Regions from separate parts of the Homo sapiens genome. Here all the other regions are linked to region 1. The links come from fine-mapping of genetic effects on gene expression. A gene starts in region 1. Each other region holds a variant in brackets. All regions are shown on one strand. Distances are between the middles of the regions.

What was found. PIP is the estimated chance that this variant, and not a neighbour inherited with it, causes the effect.
Region 2: its variant is fine-mapped to the expression of LINC03125 in unexposed skin (GTEx, PIP above 0.99). The same link has a PIP of 0.9 or more in aorta, lung, sun-exposed skin and tibial nerve.
Region 3: its variant is fine-mapped to the expression of LINC03125 in pancreas (GTEx, PIP 0.98).

What each region holds. Positions count from the first base shown.
Region 1 is chr20:23,144,460-23,152,642 of GRCh38, reverse strand. LINC03125 (long intergenic non-protein coding RNA 3125) reads right to left here and starts at 4,540. Exons shown (of 6, transcript NR_199692.1): 1 at 4,229-4,540. RefSeq lists enhancers at 1,414-2,397, 3,892-5,091.
Region 2 is chr20:23,185,415-23,193,597 of GRCh38, reverse strand. LINC03125 (long intergenic non-protein coding RNA 3125) reads right to left here. Exons shown (of 6, transcript NR_199692.1): 5 at 5,958-6,283; 6 at 3,291-3,815. Among named protein-coding and RNA genes, the nearest start is that of LINC03125, 41 kb to the right of the region's middle. The variant C/T (reference allele first, on the strand shown) is at 3,785.
Region 3 is chr20:23,243,949-23,252,131 of GRCh38, reverse strand. No RefSeq gene overlaps it. Among named protein-coding and RNA genes, the nearest start is that of LINC03125, 100 kb to the right of the region's middle. RefSeq lists a silencer at 6,126-6,420. The variant T/C (reference allele first, on the strand shown) is at 4,255.

The sequences.
Region 1 (8,183 bases):
TGATGCAGAGCCGGTGCTTCTGAGCAACAGTTGCTATTTTTAGCTGGTCTTAGCTAAGTGACCTCGCAGCAGGTCAGGCTGGAGAGTGGACCCTGAGCCCTTCAGATAGGAGAATGACATCAGTGAGTGACACAGTGCAGCTGCAGGCGAGAAATACAGGGTGTTCCTAATGCCAGTGCTTCCTGTATGAGGAGGCACTTGCTTCCTGTAGGAGGAGGCACCAACAGATGCTGTTTGGTGGCACTTGGCACATAAAGAGATACTTCCCAAAGATAAAACCCTGGCCAGGAGCTTTAAGACTATAATAAAACTGTAAGATTGTTAAGTAGTCAAGATGAAAAATGATCTTTTCCTAGTATTTTTATGGTCCCTCAGAACGAGTGGGCCCCTGATAACACCGCTGCCTCCTGCTGCCCGGGCTGGGTCTTCATTGCCTCCTTGATGGAAACTCGGGTGTTGCTGTGGAATTGAGATGCTGTAAACACAGGATCCAGTGATGGCTTTCGGTGTGCATGCTGCCCTGTTGCCTTCCACTGTGTGAGTCAGGGCAGGTCTGTGACCCACATGCTGTGGTGGAAGGGACCTGGGCCTGTGGCTGTAGAAGGCCTGGCCACCTCCTACAGATAGAGCTCCTATTTGTGCTCTGGGAGTGCTGAGCTGCCATGTAATTAAAAAGTCCACATGGAGAGGCCACGAAGAGAGGCAGAGACCCTGAGATGACGCTGAGGGTCCTGGCTGAGTGCAGCCTCCTGGCCGTTCCCCAAAGCACTGGGCCTCTGAATGAGCCATGCTTGGTGTCTCACCCCATTTAAGCCCCCCTGTGACGACGCCACACAGTCACATCAAGCACAGCAGAAGGACCACACACTCAACCCATGGTAGGGAAGAAGAATAAACTGCTGTTTTAAGCCACTAAGTTTTGAGGTGGCTTACTTCACAGCAAGAAAAAATGGAGACTATTACAGATGAAACAAAGTCAAGCCTAGGGCCAAGTCGAGCATCATGGCCAGCACAATCACAGTCAGCCTAACTATCCTGCCTGTTCATGCTGGCTTAGGACATGTGACAGTTCCAACCCCCAGCAAGGGGCGGGTAAGTTCCTGGGTCAAACAAAAGGTGAGGTCAGGTCAGCAGGGGTCTAGGCAGGTAGCTCTCATGAGGGTAACGGATTTCCTCCACCCACCAGGATTCCGGCAGGCACAAAGGCCCAGGGCATGATCCCGCTGGGTAAGGAGTTTCAGGGGAGACCTCCAGAGGCCCAGCCTCCCTGGTCTTGGGAGGCCCCCACAGCAAGGGAGGGCCCTCTCTCATGCCCAGTGCCTAAGAAGCAAGGGTCAATTCCTAAGAGTTCTCAGTGGCCACTGCAGAGAGCAAGGCAGAGGCAGGGTGCCTGGAGTGTGTGTGAGATTCCTCCATGGTCAGCACCATCCTTTTTCTCTAACTGAGCAGCCTTCAAGAGTTGAGCCACAGGAAGCTTCAGGGCTGCCTCTGTCCTCCCTGGCCCCAGCAGGGAGTAGGGAAGACTCTGGCCTGACGGGGAGGAAAGGGCAGCAGCTTCTCTGCACCCCGTGAAGGATGTCTCTTTCACTGTGCAGAAAAGAGAGTGGTTTCACTGTGCTCTACTCACAGGAACGGGCCCCTCTTCCTCCTGGGGCAGCCTATGGGAAGAGGGGCAGGCACCTGCCACCCACTGGCTGTCATGGCACCAGAAGGTCACACTCCAGTGGCAGGAGAACGATGGGCACTGCCCCATCCCTCTCTTAGCTTCAAGGCCTGCCCTGGGTGTGAGGGGCAGTACACTGCTGATGGTGCTGGCCCAGTAGCATTGTGCATCCCATGCAGCCCAGCCCTGGCATACAAGCCTGGCACACAGGCACCAGACCTAGCTGCTTCTCCAGTCACCTGCTTGCCTGCTGTGGGGCCTCAGGGCACACTCTGCCCTCACCCATTTTAGGAGCTGCCTCTTCCTCAAAGCCTTCTGAGTCCTCCCCTTCCCTTATGGGTGAGCCCCTCCCTGCCCCTGAGATCTCTGGGGGCACCTGTGCGACTTCTTCCCGAGGTGCCCTATACAACCCCTTGCCTAGTAGATTCAGCTGTGTTTTCTCAGACACCACAAAAGGCTTGTGCATTCTCTCGGGAGCCAGCCCTGGCGGCCTGGCAGGAGGAGCTTGGAGCTCTGTGTGCTGAGGAATCTGGAGCTCGCCCAGGCTCAGGTGCAGGGTTCCATGACAGGCTAACCATGCCTGCTGGGGAGCAGGGGGCACAGCGGAGGGTCAGGCTTTGGGAATCCATGTCCCAGGCCATCGTCACAGCTACACAGCTTTCTTCTTTCCACTTCTCCCTCAGATTTTCTAGCCTTTAAATAGGGTTCCTACAGATGAAGAGAAATGTCCCAGATAGAAACCCCACTGCGGAAAGTGATCCCCTCCCTCTGGGAAATAGAATCTCTGAAGAGGATCTTAGGCAGGATGGCACGCTGTGAGTTCAATCAGCTTTCTCAAGTGTGGATCTCAGGTGAAAACCAGGCCAATTCTCACCACACATCAGGGTCTAGGCTCCGTTTCCTGGCAGTGAGTCAGAGGGGTGACCCGAGGCTAAAGGCAGGATGGCACCTGGTCTAAAAATGGCCATGGTTAATCCTCAGGGTAGCAGCAATGGCATTTTTTGAAGAGTCAGGCCAGGGTAAATAAACTCTTGAGATGTAAATGTTTAGTCTTCTTTATTTCTGCCCATCTTGAGCAGAGCCGGGCCCTAAGCTCTGAGCAGGTTTAAATTCGCACAAGTGATAGGTCCCCCCTGGAGATCCTGCATCCCAGGTGCACTCAGCCCTGGCCTACAGTTCTCCTACAAAAGGCTTGTTCCTAGAGGACATTCACACATCAGAGGGAGAGTTAAGCAACATCATTTATTTGACTCTTCACTCACTTAGCAAACTTCGACTGAGAGAAGAAATTGAGTTTGTTTGGGAGCTGGTCCCAGGGAGCAGGAGGAAGAGGAAGAGTCAGACAGGGAGGAGGCAACACAGGGTGTGTTTCTGGGCCTTTGAAAGCACGCAGATTGCCTCTCAGAATTGTCCCTCTGAAGGACGAGGCCATATGCACTAGCTCCTACCTTGGGGACACTGGTGCCCTCCCCCAAATACCCTTCAGGTGGTGCCTGCACTCAGGCTGAGGAGGAGGATGTCACGGTGTAGGTGCAGGGAAGGGTGCTATCAGGAAGCACAGCTGTGTCCACCACAGCTGGGGGCCACGGGCCTGCACCTCCACACAGGTGTTGGCTGCTGCAGCCTGGGATGGTCCTCTCTCTCCAGCCCCAGGTCCCTGTGGCTGGGCCATAGGAGTCGCTCAGAAGACTTCATCCCAAACTCACAACTACCATCCTCATCTGAACCTTTGGAAGTCATGAAAATGTGGAAGCACTGGCTGGAAGTTAGCAAGCAGGTTATTATCGAGGCAATGGCTTATGCCGTCTTCCTGGGACCTCCATGTGGAGGAAGCCGGGGCTGCAGCAAGACCTCTGTCTTCGCCCTCGCTGTGGGTCTTGGATCTCACCAGAGCAGGAATCCTTTCAGACCATGGTTTCCTGGCTTATTTGTTTTGTAAAAAATCTGCTAAAGAGGGACTAAGAAGATGTGAAAGCCACATCCACGTATTTTAAAAGTTGCACATATTTTAAAAGTTGCACATAGAACAGGGAGGAGCTTGTCCTGTGTATCCCAGAGGATAAAGCTAGGGACAAGGGTGCTCTGTGTGTGTATGTGTGTGTGTGTGTGTGTGTGTGTGTGTTGTTTTGTTTGTGGTTCTCTGTGTCATCCCCATAGGATTTGAGAATGAGGGGAAGTAAAGGAAAACAAAGGAACACTTTAGATTGTCCTCTTGAAAACTCATGGATTTCCAAGCACTGTGCTAGAAGCTGCCACATCAGCATCTTCTGGGAACTTGTTAGAAAGGGAAATTCTTGGGCCCACCTCAAACCCACTGATTCTCATACATGCTCAGGTATGAGAATCACTCTTCTAAATATAGGAAAAGATCTTTCTAACAGATATCATTGACCAAAGTTGCAGTGCCTTTCCTCATGAGGTGGTGAGTGCTACTCTTCTGGAAGCATTCAAGAGAAGGAGTAACCATTAGTCACGCATGTTGCAAAGGAAGTGAACACAACAGGTACAGAGTTCAACTGAAGTCACTTCCTTGGTTGCTCAGTATTTTAGCAAACATTTACTGACCAGCAGTACTGGGCACTGTTCACAGTGACAGGCGACAGGAATAGAAATCCACAGAAGCTCCCCGTTCTTGCCTGCTCCGAAGACTGAAGTCCAGCAGTCTCTCATGCTGTGGGCCCAGACACTGCTCTCTGTCTTGACTGCCAAACCCTGGCTGGCCAAGTGACGATTCACCATCCTTACAACATACTCCAGTCACTGAAGATTCCCCACGGAACCACCACCTTCCTGCTCAGGCCTCTTCATCTATCCAACAGGAGGAGGGGAAAGAGACCATTGACCCAGGACTGCCCTGGCGTGCATGAAGCCCTGAGTGAGGGCTGTGGCAACTTCCCGGCCTGCACACACTGCTGCTGCTTTCTTGGTGCCTATGAGTCATGCCTTGTCACCCGTGTGACATTAATCACTCAGTGGGACTCAGAAATCCAGCAGATGAATTCTGAAACTGAGTTGGGGAGGAGGCCAAATGTCTCATCGTGAGATGAGTCCCAGGGTACAGTCTCGGACAGATGAATATTCTAGATTACAAGGCTTAGCACTTTAACCAGAGAATAAATACAGACTGTGGTTGTTTCCATGTATTTAAAAAAAGTAAATTATGACACAAGTGATGCACATTTGTTCGGGGAAAGTTACAGTACAGATGGGCAAAACCAAAGAAAAAAGTGCATCAGTTCCCCTAAACTCCACCACCCAGAAACAATTGCTATTAACAGGAGGACGTGGTTTACTTCCAATGCTTTTCTGGGCACATATGTAAGTGTGTGTGTGTGGCAGTGCAACCGTGGAATCGCATTGTAAGACTTGACCCTAACACAGCTTTCCATTTAAAGTATATTGTGAATACGTTTCTACGTCAATACATTTAAATGATCAATTTTAAAGCTATCTAGCCCTCTACTGGCATCAATGCAAATTTTCCTCAGATTGTATCACGTTTAAAAAGTTTTTCTAAGATACACCACACACTCTCCTGCCTTCCCTTCCTGTTTTCTAATCCAAGTACAGAAACATGACATTGCTTGTTTCTAGGTGCCTTGGGGTCGCTGTTATTCAGTGAACCCCTCAGGATGTAAAGTTTCAATAAAGAAGCAGTTTGGTAGAGACAAAAGAGCTCCAGATTAGAAATCAGGATAGCTCTGGGCCCCTGTGCACTCAGGCTCCACATGGTTATGCACAGAACCTTCAGAACCTTCAGATTCATCACTAGCAGGATGGGTCCAGGGCGTGGGTCTTTGCTATGAGATCACCTTAGGTACCTCTGGAGGAGCTGGTCACACCAGTGATAACCCTTTGGAGAGGAGAAAGTCAATGGAGGAGGAGAAGACATGCCTCAGAATCACACCCCAGTTGTTGCTTGAAGTGTGGTCAAGGAGCTGCTTATCTCCACCCACACCTCCTCCTGGACACACAAAGGATATACATTCCTGGGCCCAGTTCAGCTCTTCCAAATTGGAACCTTTGTGGGTGAAGCACAAATAACATGCTTTTAAACAAGTACCCCTGAAGTTTGTCACAGAAAGTTGAGCTCATTGCTCCACTCCTAAAATGTCATTTCTCTTAAACATCTGAAACGGTTCTGCTCGGAGAGGCCACCTGTTGACCACTTGCTTGGCTGCTTGGCCTCGTAGGGCAGGGGGCAAGCAGGAGACAGAGGAAAGATCAGGATCGACATTTTTCTTCAGTGTTCCATAGGAAAACCATTCTTTTATGTTTCTCTTTGGCATTTGCAAATACACACCAAAGATTTGCCTCCTGTGAGTTGTTTTTTTTTTTTTTTTTTTGGCGGGGGGTGGGGGGTGGGTAGAATGTCCTTGCCCAGCCCCTTCCTCACTGATTCTTAACCCTTCCCTCTCCCCGGATCCATAGTGCGCTCAGATCCTGACCCTCTGAGACTGCCCAGCCCCGAGACCCGCCACGTCCCCGCAGAACAGTCCATGCAGCGAAAAGATGAGAAACGTGACTGTGAAGCATGGTGCCCTTGATTCGACTGCTTCATTCATTTCAGCAGATGTCACCAGGGCCCTGTAGGGAAGATTGTGCAGATCTGTGTGGTCTAAACAGACAACTTCATGTAGATTGCACTGGATTTATCTTGGCTCTGCCCAGAGGTGATTTGGCTCTGATAGGGAGCCTTCTCATGGAGTGGTTTTGGCCTCTGAGAAGTGGCAGAATTGCTGAGTTCAGCCTGATTGTCCAGGAAGAGCCACATCTTATAGATTCTAATATTTCCTCAAGATCTTGGAATAGCACTGCTATTCACCAACTGATGCTTACTTATTAATTAAACATCTGTTAAACTCTCGATAGGTGCCAGACAGTGTAGTAGGTGGCCATATATTAGAATGAATAAACAGCTGAATCATTGCAGATGAACTTTGTTGCACTTCAGATAATCAAAAACATAATTCAAACTTGTTTAGGAAAATATAATAAATTTCATATGTCGTTTAAATACATAATTAAATAGATAAGATAATAGCTATTCATTACTCACCAAAGATCTGTTTTTTATAAGCACATTTCTCATTTAAATCAAACCCCCCCATCTCTGTGAGAGCTGTTTTGATGAAAAACTTTCACAAACAAGTGGCACATTTCTCACATCTGCTTTCTTAAGCAAAGTGTTCTTGTCTGGAGTTTGATTTGATTTTCTCTGTTGTGCATTGTGCCGTGTTGGGCAAATGAACCATACAATTGCACACCCCACCAGGGTGCTCCCAGTGACCCTGCCTGGCCAGGCTTCAGGGCACTGTTTCAGCCCTTTCTCTGATTCACTGTTTCCATCAGTGCCCGTCTGGGAGCGGTTGCCATCCTGCGTGACACATACAGCACACGTGCTCTCTCTGTGAGTTCTCGCCTTCCATGCCAAGTCTGCAGACTGACTCCATCTCAACTCTGACCCTCATACCTCACGCCGTCACCCTGGATTGTCCTGCTGCAAAGCCTCCCTACTTGCATCCAGCATCCTCCTCCTGCAGTCCTTCCCCGCAGGCAGGCAGCAAGCTCTTTCTTTGAAAACCACCAGTCAGATGATTTCATGTTCCTGATTCAGACCCAGCAGCCTTGCTCCACAACACTGATAGAAGTCCTGACCTCCCTTTCCTGGCCTCTTACTGCCCGCTGTGGCTGCTCTAATTCCCTCTGCCATGGCTCACAAGACTGCAGCCGTGTCATTCTCCTTCTCTTTATTTGGACAAACCAAGCTTTTGCACAGGCTGCTTTCCCCACCAGGCTGGCTTCTTCTTGCCGTGTGGCTCTTTGTGGAAATGGGCCTTCCTGGGCCTTACCTCAGCCCGCCCGGTCATGCTCTGTCATTCATTCTCCCTGTTTTCATTCTCCACGTAACACTGACTTGGTCCTCTGGCCCATCAGTGCCCGCAGCCTGCCATCTGGCATCCTTGGCTCACTGAGTATGGAGAGCTTGTTGACTTGAGCAGCCCTGCAAGCTGGGGAGAATTGGGTTATCTAAGGGATGTAATTCTGTCCTAAAGGTTTAACTCTTTTCCACCAGCCAGCAGGGTTTCCCCAGCAGCCCACCGAGAGAGCTGCCTACACTTGTCCAGGAGTCTGGGCCTCCTGCCTCCTGCTAACCTGTATAGCTCCTGCTGAGAGAACATCTGGGAGCTGTGAGAGCTGCATCTTTCATGGAGTGCCAGGGAAGAGGGTGACATGGCAGAGGTTCCCAGGCAAGGCCAGGCTCTCCTTGGAGCCACAGCCATGCTAGAGTGGGTGCCAGACCTCCAAGCCCCGAGAGAGTGTATTTTCCGAAACCCTCCACACATCCCTCAGAGCATCTCAATGGATATCTGTTCTGTGGAGCCAGCTGTGGTCAGCACTGTTTTGAGGAAAGAGAACTGACATGGTGGCTGGGTCACTGTGCTTCCCAGCACATCTCCGGGTAGGTGGAGGCAGATAAGTGACCCACGCTACGTCGTCTAGAGCTGGTGTTGGCCGA
Region 2 (8,183 bases), 41 kb before region 1:
CCAAAGCCTATTTTGAAAACTTTTTTCCCCACCACAAATAACAAACAAACAAATCCCCCCAAACCCCAAGTTCCATGTTCCATCAATGATCAATGATCAGTTTTAACAAAGAAGAGAAAGGGGCCATCTCCACCTTGGCTTTGTTCTTTATCCATAAAATGATTTGATTTTTTTTTCTTTTTTTGCCAAGTCTTGCTTGAGCTCTTGTGAATTAAGTGTTCAGTGTTTTCACCATGCCAGAGCCTCTATACTCAAGAAAATGGGTCTTGATTCACAAGATGATAAACCAGTGGTGTTTTGTAAACCTGCATGCTTGAAGAGAACTACTAAATACTGATAGCATTAATTATGAATAACTGACAAAACTGTTGGTTCCTATCATTCAAGGTTTGTTTCCCCATCAATTAAAAAATTATAGATTTTTTCTTCTTATTCTAGAGAAGTAGATTTTTACAGTCAAGAATTTGAAAATACAGAAGAGTACTGAGACGTGAATAAAAATCTCCTATAACCCACCACAGAGCATGTTGATGTTAATAGCATTGTTTATATACAGACTTACACAATTAAACGGAATCATACAGAAAATGTCATAGAGCCTTAAAAGATCTTTATCATACAGTATTTTCTCGTGGCACACAATACTTTTTTCAAATGCAGGTTTTATGCATTCTACTGCATATGGCATCAAAGTTTATTTATTCCATCCCCTACCATAGTCCATGGTAGTTGTTTCCAAATTTTCATGATTCTATGTTAAACAGTGATAAACACTTTTGGATATTCATATTTGCAATTAACTCATTATCTTCTTAGGATAAATTCCTAGAATTGGAGTGGCTGGGAGGCAGTGTGTGCACATGTTAAAGGTTGGCAAGCCTTGTTGATGTTTGCCCTCCAGAAAGATTGCAGGAGTTCATTTTCCCACAGCAGTGCTGAGCGCCTGTTGCCCTGCCCAGCAGCACTGGGCATGTCTATTCTCATTGGCTTTAAAGATCAGAAACAGAAACAGTAATGTTTTGTGTTTCTTTATGAGATAATCAGTCAGATGCCACCACCAAGGAGACGTGAGAAAGACAAAGTTGACTACACGCACAGTTCCAGAGAGGAGGCCACCACATACAACTCAGGGCCACATTGGAAGCACCAAGCTTTGGTCAGATGGCAGAAGACAGGAGCTAGGGACAGCTTGGACCTCAGTCCTTATTTTGGTTTCGATGGAAAAGGCAAAACAGGGCAGTGTGAACAATTTAGAATTGGCCAATTGGAATAATTTTAGGGGGCTTTTGGTGGTCTCTAGTTGCCTGGTAGCTGGCCCTGGGCTTGTCAAGGTAGAGGAATATTGCCTTTTGAGATGTACAGGCCAGATAGAAGGGAATGGCTCTGGATGGGTTAGTTGGTGCATCAAAGGCATGCTCCCAGCTGAGTCTTCTGCTGTCTCTAAGAACTGGCTAACCCCAGAAGCCATCCTCAGCTAAAAAGTTTTTTTTTTTTTATATCAAATATCATACTCAACAGAAAATAAAAAATATATGCAAAACAGATAAGTAAACAAGTGAGACCTTTTTTTTATATCTGAACTGCAAATTTAAGAGCCTGCCTGGACAGGGGGCAAATCTCCATTCTCTGATGATTTCACATGCAGGGTTGACTATTCTTGAAACCATAAGGCTGAATTTTGTACCCTTTGAGTAGTTTTAGCTGTCAGTCAACATCCTCTGAGTAGATGATAAAAAAGGAAAGCACTTTTCCCCTGAAATTCATTGCAGGTCCTAGGTCTGGAACTGAAATCTCCCTGATGGTCACTGGTTATATTGTTTCTCTGGTTTGGGATACTTTGAAGAGGGCACCTGGAGAAGGGGACCAGGACAGGGCAGGTATGTAAGGGCTGGTGGTGGTCACTGAGGTATGTTTTAACTCTTGTTCTTCTTTCTCCATGCTTGGCTCTTTATATTTGCACATCAACAATCATAGACATGCTTTTTATCAAAAATGAGAGCATATTTGCTTGTGTTCTTGCTGAGGCTATAGGAGCAACAAGAGTTATTGGTCACACTTGGTTGGAGTTTAGATAACCTGAATCCCTACCCGGAACAGAAGTGCCTGCAGGCTGAAGAACTTCCTGAGGTGTCCATAGTGGGTCCCTTTTTGTCAATGGTGGGTAAAGCTTATACACAGTGGCACCAAATATTCTAAAGCCAGAGGTAAAAATCAGCCTCATCTCTTGGCTTCTAATAGCTCTCTCATTTTAATAACATTCACAGAGTCCCTACCATGTAGGAGTTTTATTCTGGAGAAGTGACAAAGTTTGTGGTTGAGATTTATAAACAAAGAGCCATATCTAACAGCTCCATCTATCCACCCACCCATCCACTGATCCATCCATCCATCCATCCATTCATCCATCTATTTATTAATTTATTCATCTGTTTATTGGATTTTTGCTATTGGTCAGCTAAGAAACAAACTCATCTTGTGTCAATTAAGATAAGTATAGTTGTGCTATGTAATTCACACTTAGTGAATTTAAACAACAGTTGATTTCATCTACATGTTACATGTTCAATACAGCTTACCTGGGGGGCTCTACTCCATGTCATTCTTACTCTGAGATTCAAGGTGATGGAAGGACTGCTACCTGGACATTGTAGGTCACTGTTGCAGAGGGAAGGAGAGCTCTGGAGGCAATTAAACTCTTTGGCCTGCAAGAGCAGATGCCATTTCCATCATGACCATTGTCCAGAGCCAGCACATGGCCCCATCTTCCTAGGGGACCAGGGTGGCCAATCCCTCCTTGAGCCTGGAGGTCAGGAATGGCAAGTATTTGCTGAACAGCGTCACTGACCACAGGTCTCCTCTCTGGTCTCAAGACAGATGGTTTCTAGTCACCTCGTGTTAAGATAGTTATTCACTTTGGTCAAGACAAGAGCTGCTCTTTGGTCTGGAGCTGCTGTTAGCGTGGGGAATTGGGCATGGTTTTTTAGAATGTGAATATAGATCTCAGGCCACAGTTTGGTAAACTTCACTGTTTGGAAAAAGTTTCCCTCTTACAGCTTAAATTTTTCTTTGCTACATATTTCAGATGAGGGAGATATAAAAGGGAAAAACAAGACATGCGCACATGTAATCCCAAAGCAAATACACCCAGAACCTCCCTCTCTTCTCTGTCCTGGTTTCATTTTTTATCTTCCTCCTTCCTTCTCAGTCCATGAGGCACTTGTTTCATTTTGGTCATTTTAATACTTGACTATTTCCTACATTAAAAAGAAAATGAGACTACCAATGGCAGAGACATTTTAAAACTACTTTTATTTTGAGTAAGTTTTTTGGCTCCTTGTCTTTTGAAAGCCTTGGCTTTGTTCTCGGTGCCTGCTGCTTTATTTCTTCAGACCTGGCCAAAGGAAATTCCCCTGCGCCACAAGGTATCTGCAAAATCTGCTGTCTTACGTGCTTGCAAAGGGCAGAGGGAGATCCACGGCCCACTTGCCATGTGGCCTCACATCGAGGGACGCCGTGTGATATGGCTTGGAGACATGCACTTGACGGCAGTGACAACAGCTCTCAGCCATGTCTGGCAGCCACTTACTTTCCCCAAGCACATCATATCATCACCTGGGAACAGCAGCTCGCCTCCTTGGGAACACAGGTTTGAGGTCTCATGGCTTCCCAGGGATAGGGGAAAAATGCAGCAGAAGGATTTGGGGCCAAAACCCATTTCTTCTCCCCAGAAGGACCACCTGGAGGTCTCTCATGGTCTTCGGCTCATCTTTGCAGCAGCACTAAC[C/T]AGCGTGGGCATACTCTGCTAGGACTTCTGCCTAAGGGAGAGAAGGGGTCTCTTACCTTGGTCACGCCCTTGCCTTGAGCACACGGGCGCCAAGCTTCAGAAGGGAGACAAACCCCACACGGCTATAATTAGGGGCTTTCTTAAGTCCCTGTCACGCATGATCAAGTGTGCCAGGATTCGGGATCATACTTCCTCCCAGGACTTCCAAGCTCTTGCGTGTGATCTTCTCTAAGTCTGGGGGCTGAGGAAAAGCCAGCCCTCCCCTCCCACCAGCACCCACCCAGTGCATCTCCACCCATAGCTCTCTCTCCCAGCCAGGTCTGGACCAGAGATGCCTCAAGACAGGCGACATTGGTGACATCAACGGGACCCCAGAGGGTCTTCATCTCACTCTCAGAAGCAGGCAGCATTCTGAAAATCACCCTCACGGGCCTGCCTCTGCTCCACAGGACACCCGATGGCCCGAGGAGCTCAGATTCACCTCTCCCACCAGGGTTCTCTGTTCCTTTAAAATCCCACCTTTCCTGTCCTTCTGATTCAGAGGAAGGAGTTCTCAGGACTGTGTCTCCTCCTCCACGGCCCTGGGATCTTTGCCTATAGAGCTCCTTCTCCTCCATCTGTGAGCAAACCTCCTCCCATAGGCAGAAACCACATCCACACACACAAACCCACACAACACACCAACATCACACAGACACCATGCACACTCATAAACCCACACACAACACACCAATATCACACAAACACATATAAACCCACACACAACACACTGACATTACACACACCAACATCACATACACATAAACCTACACAACACACTGACATCATACACACAGACACCACACACATAAACCCACACAACACACCAACATCACACACAGTCACCACACACACATAAACCCATACACAACACACCAAAATCAGACACACACATAAACCCACACACAACACACTGACATCACACACACTGACATGATGCACAAATATACACCCACACACAACACACTGACATCACACACACAGACACCACACACACATAAATGCACACACAACACACCAACATCACACATACACATATCAACCCACACACAACACACTGACATCACACACACCGACATCACACACATAAACCCACACACAACACACTGACATCACACACACAGACACCACACACACACACACAATCCCACACAAAACACACCATCAGACACAGACATCACACACACACACATAAACCCACACACAACACACTGATATCACACACACCAACATCACACACAAACATAGACCCACACACAACACACCAACATCACAAACACAGACACCACACACACACATAAATCCTTACACAACACGCTGACATCACACACACAGACACTATATACACACACAAACCCACACAACACACCGACATCACACACACAGACACTATGTACACAAACATCACCCACAGACACCAGATGCACACACCACACACACTCAAACTTCTCTCTTACACACACTCTTCCATCACACCCTCACAGAGTCATGACACATGAGCATACTACACACATATCACACAAATATTCACAGACACACAGACAACCCCCCCCACACACACAATGCACACACCACACAACTGTCTCCCCGGGCCCACACCCTGTCCATATACAGACCATGGAGAGCAAGAAGGGCTGAAGCTGGTCTTGCCCCTGCCTCCTGGAGGAGGAGGGTGCACCTGAAAACAGACCCAGCAAGAGATGGGAGCCCCGGGAGCAGCCCAACTCCAGGTCCTCTGCAGAAGTGTCCTAGCCGCCACCAGGCTGCCCTGCATGGCTCAGCAGTTTCCAGTGCCAGGCTGCAGGGAGGTGTGTGGGGCTGGAATGCGAAGGCAGCAGAAACCGCCCTGCTCACTCTGACGTCAAAGAAGGGAGGGAGCCATGGGCAGTTGTGGCAGCTGTGGTTCTATACCGGTCCCAGATCTCACTGCCCATCTGCTTCCCTGCACCCGTAGGGCCTGCTGAGCTGGGCAGGGCAGCCTGGTGGCAGCTGGGTCACTCCTGCAGAGGACCTGGAGTGGGGCTGCTCCCAGGGCTTCCATCTCTTGCTGGGTCTGGTTTCAGGTGCACCCTCCTGCTCCTGAGGGTCATCCTCTCTCTCTAGAGCCCTGCCCTGGGGTTCCCTCCTTCCCTACCTGGTTATCTCCTCCTTCCGGGGATCGCCCTTAATAAACACGTGCCCCCAGTCCTCATGTCAGGGTCTGCTTCAGGAGACACAGGATGCTCGGCAGGGTCTTCCATGGTGGGGACTCCCACAGCTTCTTTCTGGCTGCCCTGCCTTCAGGCTCTGCCAGTGGTGGCTCCCATTTCCCTCTCTCCCCTAAAGAAGAGCCTCCACCAGGTCCTGTTCTGGGCCTGTCACCCAGGGTCTTTGGCTCTGTCCTTGGTGGTTCAGGTTAAACGGTGGCCCCCTCAAAATTCAAATGTCAAAGTCTTCACATGCAGTACCTCAGCAAGTGACCTGATTTGGAGTTAGGGTCTGTGAGAGGTACTCAAGTAAAAGTGAAGTCACACGGGTGGGCCCTGATCCAGTAGGACTGGTGTCTTTACAGGAAGGGGAGATCTGGAGAGAGACAGGCACAAGGGGAAGGTGATATGGAGAGCCAGGGAGCAGATGGCTGTCCACCAGCCAAGGTGGGAGGCCTGCACTGGACCTGCCAGCCACCCTCAGGAAGAGCCAGGCTGTCCAGCACCTTGATCTCAGACTTGTGACCTCCAGCCCTATGCAAGAATAAACGTCTGTGGTTTAAGCTGCCCGGGGTGTGTTCCTTGGTGACATCAGCACCAGCAGACACCCAGTGAGAAAGGCTCTGCTTTGCCTGGGCCCTTGTGGTGTCCCTTTGGTGGGCAGAGACTTGCCTGTACCCGACAGAGCCACGTGCACCTGGGTGGGGTCACCTGGTGCTCACCAATCTCTTCACCTGGAACATCAGGCCTGGCAGATGGGACCACCCGAGCATAGACTCCACCTGCCAGCCTAACCTGCTGTGAGTTCTAAGAGAAGTCTTTTGGGCAGTTGACTTTTTTTTTACTTGCGAACCTGGAGATGGAATCAGCCTAGAGTACCTGCCTGAGGCCCTGGGAGACTCTGTGGAACCGAGCCCCACCCCTTCTCGGCCTAGGGGCGAGTGTGGCTGCTGAGCAGGCCCATCCAGGCTGATGGGATGGTGGGGCCTCAGGCAAGGAGGTGACCCTGGCTGTTCCCTAGTGAAATGTAATTCCTACCTTCCTCACAGGACCCAGGGCAGCTCAGAAAACCCCTCTGAGGAGGGAAACAGTATCCAAGGAAGTAGTGCTGTGTTCTTGCCCTCTTCGCTGGTACCTGCAGGGAAGTTCTCAACATTTCAGAGCCCTTGGAGCCTCCAGTGGCCTCCTGCTGTGGTGGGAAGAGCACGGACATGAGCCAGCCAGCCAGAGCTCCAATTCCAAACCCACTGCTTACCCACTTTAAACTAACCTCACCTCAGTTTCCCCACCTGAGTGATGGGGACGAGACTATTCCCCTCAGAGTTCAGTACAATGTGGGCACTCTATCAACGTGCTTGCCAATGTTCTAGAAAACAACAGTGGCTCTGGATAATTTGAGGAGGCAGCAAGGGTAGTGATAAGGACAAAACAAAACAAAACAAAACAAAACTGGCAGGGCCACAGAAGGAGAAGGGGAAATTTAGGTAAGAACTCAGAAAAGCATCAGAGTTAGCCAGAGAAAGTCCTTTGTGAGGGGGGCTCTGTTCCAAGAAGGCTGAGTAGGAACAGCTCCAGTCTGCCGCTCCCAGCATGATTGACAGAGAAGATGGGTAATTTCCACATTTCCAACTGAGGTACCTGGTTCATCTCATTGGGACTGGTTGGACAGTGGGTGCAGCCCACGGGGGGCAAGCTGAAGCAGGCCGGGTGTTGCCTCACCTGGGAAACACAAGGGGTTGGGTGATTTCCCTTTCCTAGCCAAGGGAAGCTGTGACAGATGGTACCTGGAAAAACAGTACACTCCCACCCAAATACTGCACTTTTCCCAAGGTCTTAGCAACCAACAGACAAGGAGATTCTCTCCCGTGCCTGACTTGGCAAGTCCCATGCCCACAGAGCCTTGCTCACTGCTAGCACAGCAGTCTGAGATTGAACTGTGAGGTGGCAGCTTGGCTGGGGGAGGGGCATCCACAATTGCTGAGACTTGAGCAGGTAAACAAAGTGGCCAGGAAGCTTGAACTGGGTAGAGCCCACCAGAGGTCAGGAAGGCCTACTGCCTCTAGGCTCCAGCTCTGTGGGCAGGGCATAGCTGAACAAAAGGCAGCAGAAACTTCTGCAGACTTAAACGTCCCAGTCTGACAGCTCTGAAGAGAGCAGTGGTTCTCCCAGCATGG
Region 3 (8,183 bases), 99 kb before region 1:
TTTCCCTGCCAGGGCCAAGAGGATATAACTTTTGGAACTTTACCATGTTGACTGGAAAGTCCTTGAGTTACTAGGACATGAGATGGGGGTACAGCCACCATGGAGAGGGTAAGCCAGTGCTTCCTGTGTGGCTGAAAGTGTGTGTAGAAATGGGACGCTGCTTAGAATTGATGTCCACACTCTTCCTTTTGCTCAATGTGCCTTTCTTCCTCTTCTTGCAAGCTAACAACTGAGAAGCATTTGTTCAGCATTTAAAAATACATTTGAGCACGTACTACGCACTAAGGATTGCTCTGGGCACTGGGGATTCTCCACAAAACACACCAGTATCAGTCCCCACCTCTGCAGCTCGTACAGTGATTCTCTTTTGAGCCGATACCTGGGGGAGGTGGTGATCAGGGGAAAAACTGTTTCTGACATCGTCAGAATCTATAACATCCCCAACTTATATGTCCCTTCTATTGTGAGAGTTGTCCACGTTTGAGGATTGGGCCCAAAGCAGGCTGCCATCAGGACTTTTTTGGCAGTTTCTATAGAGGCTGAGACTTCACAGGTAGCTGGGCTTGGGTATAAATCCTTGACTTGCTCAAGTCAAGTTACTTAACTTCACAAAGACATGATTTCCCCAGAGTGGCAATGCTTCATGAAGTGGTTTGGGATTTTAATAATAAAATGAAGGTAACCAGATGATCATGCAGGTATGACTCGCTGTGGGCACTAAACCCATGATGGACCCACAGAGGGCAGACAGATCCCCAGGGGGCTGGTCCCTCCTAGTTCCTGAGGCTGGAAGCCTGACAGAGCCAGGGCTAGGGGTTTTAGACCAAGCTGGGAATTTGGCAGAGGCCAGAAGCAAGCTCCTAATGGTGGAAGTTTAGGCACAGTCATCTGCTCAGGGCTCATTTTAAGACAGAACAGACTTTGGCTTCATCAAAGTCAACTGCAAGGTCTTGGGACAAGTTCAGAGTAAGAGCCTACAGGGCTTTGATAAGATTTCAAAGCAGGCCGGGTGCGGTGGCTCATGCCCGTAACCCCAGCACTTTGGGAGTCCAAGGCGGGCGGATCACGAGGTCAGGAGATCAAGACCGTCCTGGCTAACACGGTGAAACCCCGTCTCTACTAAAAATACAAAAAATTAGCCGGGCGTGGTGGCGGGTGCCTGTGGTCCCAGCTACTCGGGAGGCTGAGGCAGGAGAATGGCATGAACCAGGGAGGCGGAGTTGCAGTGAGCCAAGATTGCGCCACTGCACTCCAGCCTGGGCGACAGAGCAAGACTCCTTTTCAAAAAAATAAATAAATAAGATTTCAAAGCAAACCTATTAGGCACACAGAAAACAAGTAGCAGAGGCTGTCCTGACTGGGTGGTGAGGAGGTCCTCTCTAAAGGTGGTGGGAACACAGACAGATGAAACTCTTCCGGATGATAAGTGGGGAGTATTTATGGTCATAGGCAATACAGATTGTCATATAGGTTGACCCAATAAATCTCCTTCTAAGAATCTACTATAAGAAATAACAGGCTGGGGGTGGTGGCTCATGCCTGTAATCCAAGCACTTGGGAGTCTGAGGTGGGCGGATCGCTTGAAGTCAGGAGTTCGAGACCAGCCTGGCCAATATGGTGAAACCCCATCTCTATTAAAAATACAAAAAATTAGCCAGATGTGGTGGCGGGTGCCTGTAGTCACAGCTACCTGGGAGGCTGAGGCAGGAGAATTGCTTGAGCCCAGGAGAAGGAGGTTGCAGCAAGCCGAGATTTTGCCACTACACTCCAGCATTGGTGACAAAATGAGATTCCATCTCAAAAAAAAAAAAAAGAAAAAAACAAACAAAAAGAAATAACAAAGTGTCCAGGATATGTGTGTAGTGATGTTCATTGTGACTATTAATAATATTTAAAACTAGGAGTGGCATGTGCCCGGTGCCGAGCAATGCATTTTAGGATATGTATGCGTGGGATTCTCCACAGCTGGGTGCAATGACAATGCAGAACTGTATGCTCCAGAAGGATAATGAGAAGATCGGCTCATCCCAAATCCAGTAAAATGTCAGATAAGTATAAATCCTCAATGTGGGAAACTGCATTGGGTAGAAGTTCTGATGAATTTCTGAGAGAGAGAGAAAGTGGAAAGGATATGATCCATAAAGAAGCAGGGTAGAGGACCGCACAGCTCAGACACTGCTGGAGGTAAAAGCCTCACACATAGAAGCCATTGGGAATTCTGAAGCCAGAGGCCATGGATATAGAAAGCGAGGAAACTCCTGAGTAGCCTCAAGAAGCTGATCTGGGTAGGTGGATCTAACACCCCAGGCTGAGAGCTCTTTACTTCCCACCACCTTCTGCTGAGCAGAGAGAAGCGAAGGAAGAGGATCATACGGTCAACAGGGCAGTACAGCAGTGAGGCCAGCCAGGCTGGGTAGAGCACCAGAAATCCCGGCAGCTGGGAGTGAGAGGAAGGTACCTTCTTCATCTCAACCACCTCCAGCACCTCCATCACAACCCCTGCTGTAGGCTAAGATAAACTCAACAGGGATGACAAGGATTCTTAAGCACAGAGAGGAGCAAATCAGCACCAGAAAAGGCAGGCACTGACTCAACAAATGGAAATGACTTTCAAGGAAACAGAGCACACAGAATGCAATTTTAGCACACACACAAGTACTGTAAGTAATACCTTCGTATATGGTGTGTGTAGCCTTTCCAATACATGGGAAATTTCGTTATGTTCAAAAATGATACTTGGATTCAATTGTGATACTTGGATATAATTTTGGGAAAAAATAGATCCCTCTTTTCTGTCATTAATGTTTCTGGAAGTTCTTTATAAGAAAGAAAGAAATATAAAAACTAAAACTGCAGTTTATATGCATATGACATTTGTGAAAGGTTTTTTTTTTTTCCCTTAAAAACCTTTGTCTTCCATTACCTCTCTGAATACAACATAATTTACTACGGAATATGTATTCCTATTGCAATGCTTTCTTCCCGAGTAAGTATCTTTTCTTTTAGAAAGTCTCTTTTTTATTTAGTCTCTGTTTATTATTTAGGTGGACACATTTTCAAAAAACTCACAAAACTTATTAAGGAAAAGTGAAGGTTTTGATTACATAAAAATATTTTTAAAATTATCTGTGATAAAGGTACTACAAACAAAGTTAAAAGACATTTAAAAAACTAGGAGAAAAAATATACAAAGATTTAGTGCCAGACTATAGAAAGAAGTTCTAGAATCACTGTAGAAGACTCACTACATAGGGGCAAGGATGTGAGGAGGTTATTCACAGCAGTGGAGATGCTCTGGCCAATGTAAACATCACCAGTATTCAGGGAAATACAAACTAAAACAGCCATGAGATAATACTTTTCACCTATTAGGCTGGCAAACATTAAAGTTTGTAATGATTTCAAATGTTAGCAGGTGTGGGAAAACAGCTGTTCCAATTTCAGGAGAACACATCAGTACAGCTATTTAGAGAACAAACTGGTGTATTTATCAAAATAAAGAGTGTGCCCATGCTTTGAGTCAGCAGTTCCACTTCTCTGTGTCTGCTCCAGAGAAAGGGATGTGAGCTGGAGCCCTGGGAAGATGTTGACGGCAGCATTGTTTACTGGAGCAGGGAACGGCAGCAGCCAGAAGGGGATGCATGAGTGTGAGGGCTGATGGGGAAGGGGCTCTATTCATTTTTATGTTGTTTGAATCTTTTGCAATGTATTTGGGGACTCCAAAAAACCATTGGAAAGTTGAGAATAATAGATTGCAAGATGAACTCATTTTTATGAAAACAATTATGGATGTACATATATAAATATATATAATGCATACTGTAAAGAAAAACATCAAAACATGAGTGGTGTGAAGTAGGATCATAGTGAAGGGGAATTATAGGTATTTTCAATGTTTCTTGGCTTTGGTTCTTTTGATTTTCTAATTTTCCTACACAAACATAGAAAATTTCTGTAATATATGTTTTAAAAGGTGTCATCATCACCCAGGGATTGCCCGAATGACCTGGGTTGTCTGCGGAATACCATGACCTTGGGAGCGGTGGGTTCTGGGCCCAGCCTGCTCCACAAGGGAAGGGTAAGGACTGGGCTTGAGAGATGGGAGCTTGTGGGATCCTGCCCATAACCTGACTCAGGATCCCTGCCCATAATTCTGGGATCTGGCCGTCCCCCTCCTCCTTTCACAGGGGCTCTGGGTGGGGAACAAGGGCTTGTGTGTGATGGGGACTCCCCTTCAGGTTCTGCCAAAGTCCA[T/C]TGGAACTTTCCACATGGCTCTAAGGAGTCTATTAAGGACAGCAAAGGCCAAATGTGTTACCAGTGCCCCTTTCATCCTCCCTGTGAGGCAGGAAACTGAGGCTCAGGACCCAACTCCTTGCCTAACTGGCCGAGGCTGGAGGAAGCACAGGCCTCCCTGACCCCAGCCTTCCTGGAGATCAGAAACCACCATTGAAGCATCAATATTCTTTTTGGGGTTTTGAACTTAAAATATGACCAGTGTTATGGCTCCAGAAAACATCTCGAGAGCTTGAGCCCTCCGGGGCTTTTACGTGGACAGGCTGCATTAGAAATATTGGTGCTAGGATAATACATCCGCTTTTGTTTCCAGGATCAAAAATTACTGGAAACCAGAACCACATTCTAAGTGTCTGAGCCGGAACAGGAACTGATACCCCTATTAAACGGGTCACTGGGCACCACTGCTGTGAGAAGTGCTGGCCATCTGTGAAAATCTCGGTGGCTTCAGCAGCTAAGAAAAGAAAACCTTTAGGGATAAAAACTATAGAGAGCACATTTTTCTCATGAGCATTAGGGAAAATTAGAAGATACTGTGGCTGAATTAAAGTTGTGCCTGGGCCCTGGAGGTGTGGCCAACTGTGCTAAGCGTTGCTGATGAACATTCAGCTACTGTCAGCCCCGGAGTGCAGCTGCGGCATCAGCACATCCCGCTGAAAAACACAGGGCTGGGTGGACCAAAGGCCACTTCCGTGGTCCTTTGCCAAAAGGTGGAGCCCGAAAATTCCAGACCAAATGTAATGTCTTGACCTGGGAACTAATTTTGCAAACAGCAGCCAAAGTTTCCTAAAAGTGGAGGTTTTGGAAAGAAAGGCAGAGAGCGAGGGTCGGGGTGGGGGAGAGCCAAAGAAAGCAACCTGTTTAGTGTATGAGCAGTGAATAATGAGTTAAAGGATGGGGTCATTTCTGTAATCTTGATGAAGGGTCGGTCCTTGCCTCAAGTAACCACGGGGGTGGGGTTGCCCTTCCAACTCCACTCACACTGGTTGCTCAGTCACTGGGTGAGTCCCGCCCTTTCCTTCAGCTGCTCTGGATAACGGGTTGATAATTTTGTTCTACAGAGAGACTCAGCATGCTCCTCTAGCATCCCATCGTCTCTTCTGTGCATAAGCAGTGGAGACGCTAGGCACACACTTTCCTTCCCTTTGAAACCTTTCAGATATTTATATCCAATTTATGCAAATATTTACATCCCCCAATTCATAGTGAGAAGTGACCCAGAAAACAGGAGACATAAGAGCATGGTGGTTAGGGACATGGGCCAAACATTTGCAAGGGATCCGGGCAAGTGCCCTAGCCTCACTAGGCCTCTGCCTCCTAATCTGTAGAAAGGGACTATAGCTGAGGATGGGCACACCGCTGGAGCGATCACCCATGCAAAGCTGATGGAGCTGGGCTGTTTTTATAGTAATTATCATAGACTTTCCTCTTGATACAACTGTTGTACAAATTCCATTAGCCTTAATTTTTCAAATTTAAGAGCGATTAGGATTCAAGTAGTAATACTAGGATTCCTTCAAGACAAGGCAGTTCATGGCTGAACAAGGCAGTCCATGGCTGAACAGTGTGATAGTAAGCTGTTGTAGTCTGCTTATTTTATTTACAACCAGAGTAGTGGGTCAGGATGAAAGAGGGGATGTGGGGAGGGGACACTCAAAAGCGCAGGGCAGGAGAGAGATAGCCCCAGGGAACCGGGACTTGGCCAAGTCTCCCCAGGACCCAAGGCTGACCGCTGAGAGCCCAGGGGGCAAGAAGGGATGCTCACTGCCTCACACGAGCGGTGACCAGAGGCTGATGTTTAGACAATAACTTGGTAGTCCACCTCCTTCTCTCCCTCCCTCTGTGCCAGCCGCTGAGCTCGACACCAAGGTGCATGTGTACTCCCAGCATCTGAGTTCCCATCAGCGCGAAGTGGCTTATCTGAGAGGCAATGCCAGGAAGCAGCCAGAAGAGAATGGGGAAGTGAGCCTGGGGAGCAGAGGCAGAGAATCAAGGTGTGTGCTCCAGCAGGGGCCGCTGTGGACAACTTCAGCTCAGTCCTGGGAGGAACCCTGGAGAACCAGTGTGAGTGCACACACAGACACACATACACAGACACACACACAGAGACACACACGCAGATACACACACAAAGAGACACAGACACAAATAGACACACAGATACAGGCACACACACAGACACAGACACACATGCAGATACACAGAGAGACACAGACACAAATAGACACACAGATACTGACACACACACAGACACAGACACATACACAGAGACACACAGAGACACAGACACACATACACAGACACACAGACACAGATACACACACACAGACACACAGATACACACACAGAGACACACACACACACACACACCAGCACTGTTCCTCCTGGGGCAAGGGAGCTCAGGTCTGCACACACACTGGCAGAGTCTCTGGGTGAGGGGTGCTCCCGGCCTGTTGCTTGTGTGCACCTGCGTGTACATGCAGACCTGCTCTTCTGGGGAAAGCTTCCAGGCACGGAGAAGCAGGCTCTGCTGTGGAGGTGGGCAGGAGCCATCAGGACGGGCAGGAGGAATAAGGCAGGTGCCTCATCAAGGCCTCACTCTAACGGGCAAGAGGGAGAGGTGAACGCCAGAGGGTGAGTGGAGAGGTCCTAAAGAGACTGATGGTGAGTAGGGCCAGGAGCTTTCCTGAGGGAGGTGGCCAGGTGGGGACCCGGGGATGGAGAGGAGTCCGTGAGGGGTGGGGCAGCGCCCGGGGTAGGGGAACTGCAAATGCCTTGAGAGAGGATGAGGACATTTTCATCTTTCCTGAGCTTTTAAGGAGAGGCGTCACTGTCCCATCCATATTTTAAGATCCCTCTGGTCCCCAAGTGGAGCCTGAGATGGGAGGGGTCATGCAGGGTCTGGGCGGAATCGTGGTCTGGACTGGGACCACGGCTGAGGGGAGCGGCATGGGGTGGACTTGGGATGTATTTAGGAGTGACCTTGGCAGCTGCCTTGGCTGTGGGAGGTGACAGCGAGGAAGGCGCGGAGGGCAACCTCGAGTCCGCCCTAGCGACTGGCAGAAGGCACACACTGCCCTGAGACCCCCGACTCTGTCCTCCTCCGTCCTGGGCCTGCTCCTCCCATCACAGACACCCTCCCTGAACCCTCTCCCGCTCTCGGGCCCTCCAGGTGGCCCAGGGCGCCGGCGCCACTCTGTCTCCTTAAGGTGTCAGTTCTGTGCACAGGGTGACCCGGGCTCTGGGCGCCAGTCCTGATGGGGCCACACGTTTCTTGCTTCATCCCCAGCAAGCCCATGAGCTTGTCTTATTTTCGAAAGCAGTAAACAGTGACTCAGTGTCCAAGTAGTCAATGCCAAGCTCAGCAAAATAAAGTCTCAGTAAGATCAGAATTCCAACTTCCTGGAAATGCATCTCGGAGAAAGACCATCGCCGTGGCTCCGTCGTTCCTTCTAGCCCTCAAGACAGAGCCTGCTGCCCTGAGTTTATGCTTGCTGCTCACACAGATCTGCCTGGTTCTGCGGTGACAGAGCCCTCTGCTGTGGGTTCTCTGCCCCGCCTGCAGCTCTGCTGTGGGCCAGCTGTGATTCGTTTTGTGAGCAAAAGTTCCCTGAAAAACAAAATTGGGAGGAAAGAGACTTCATCCCAGTGAACAGTTTGCAAACTGGGGAGACACAGCCTTTGGTGTAAAAGAAAGTTATCTTCCCGGGGCTAAAGAGAGGGTTTGGGTTTTGTAGCAAAGGTCCCACACAAGATCCCAATCGGGTCGGTTGATGCACATAAAGGAGTCAAACTTGCTTAGTTCTGATTGGTCAATGCAGCTGAGTTCTGATTGGATACAGGTGAGCCGTGATTGGTCAGCCAAACTTTGATTGCAAAGGTAGGTGAGC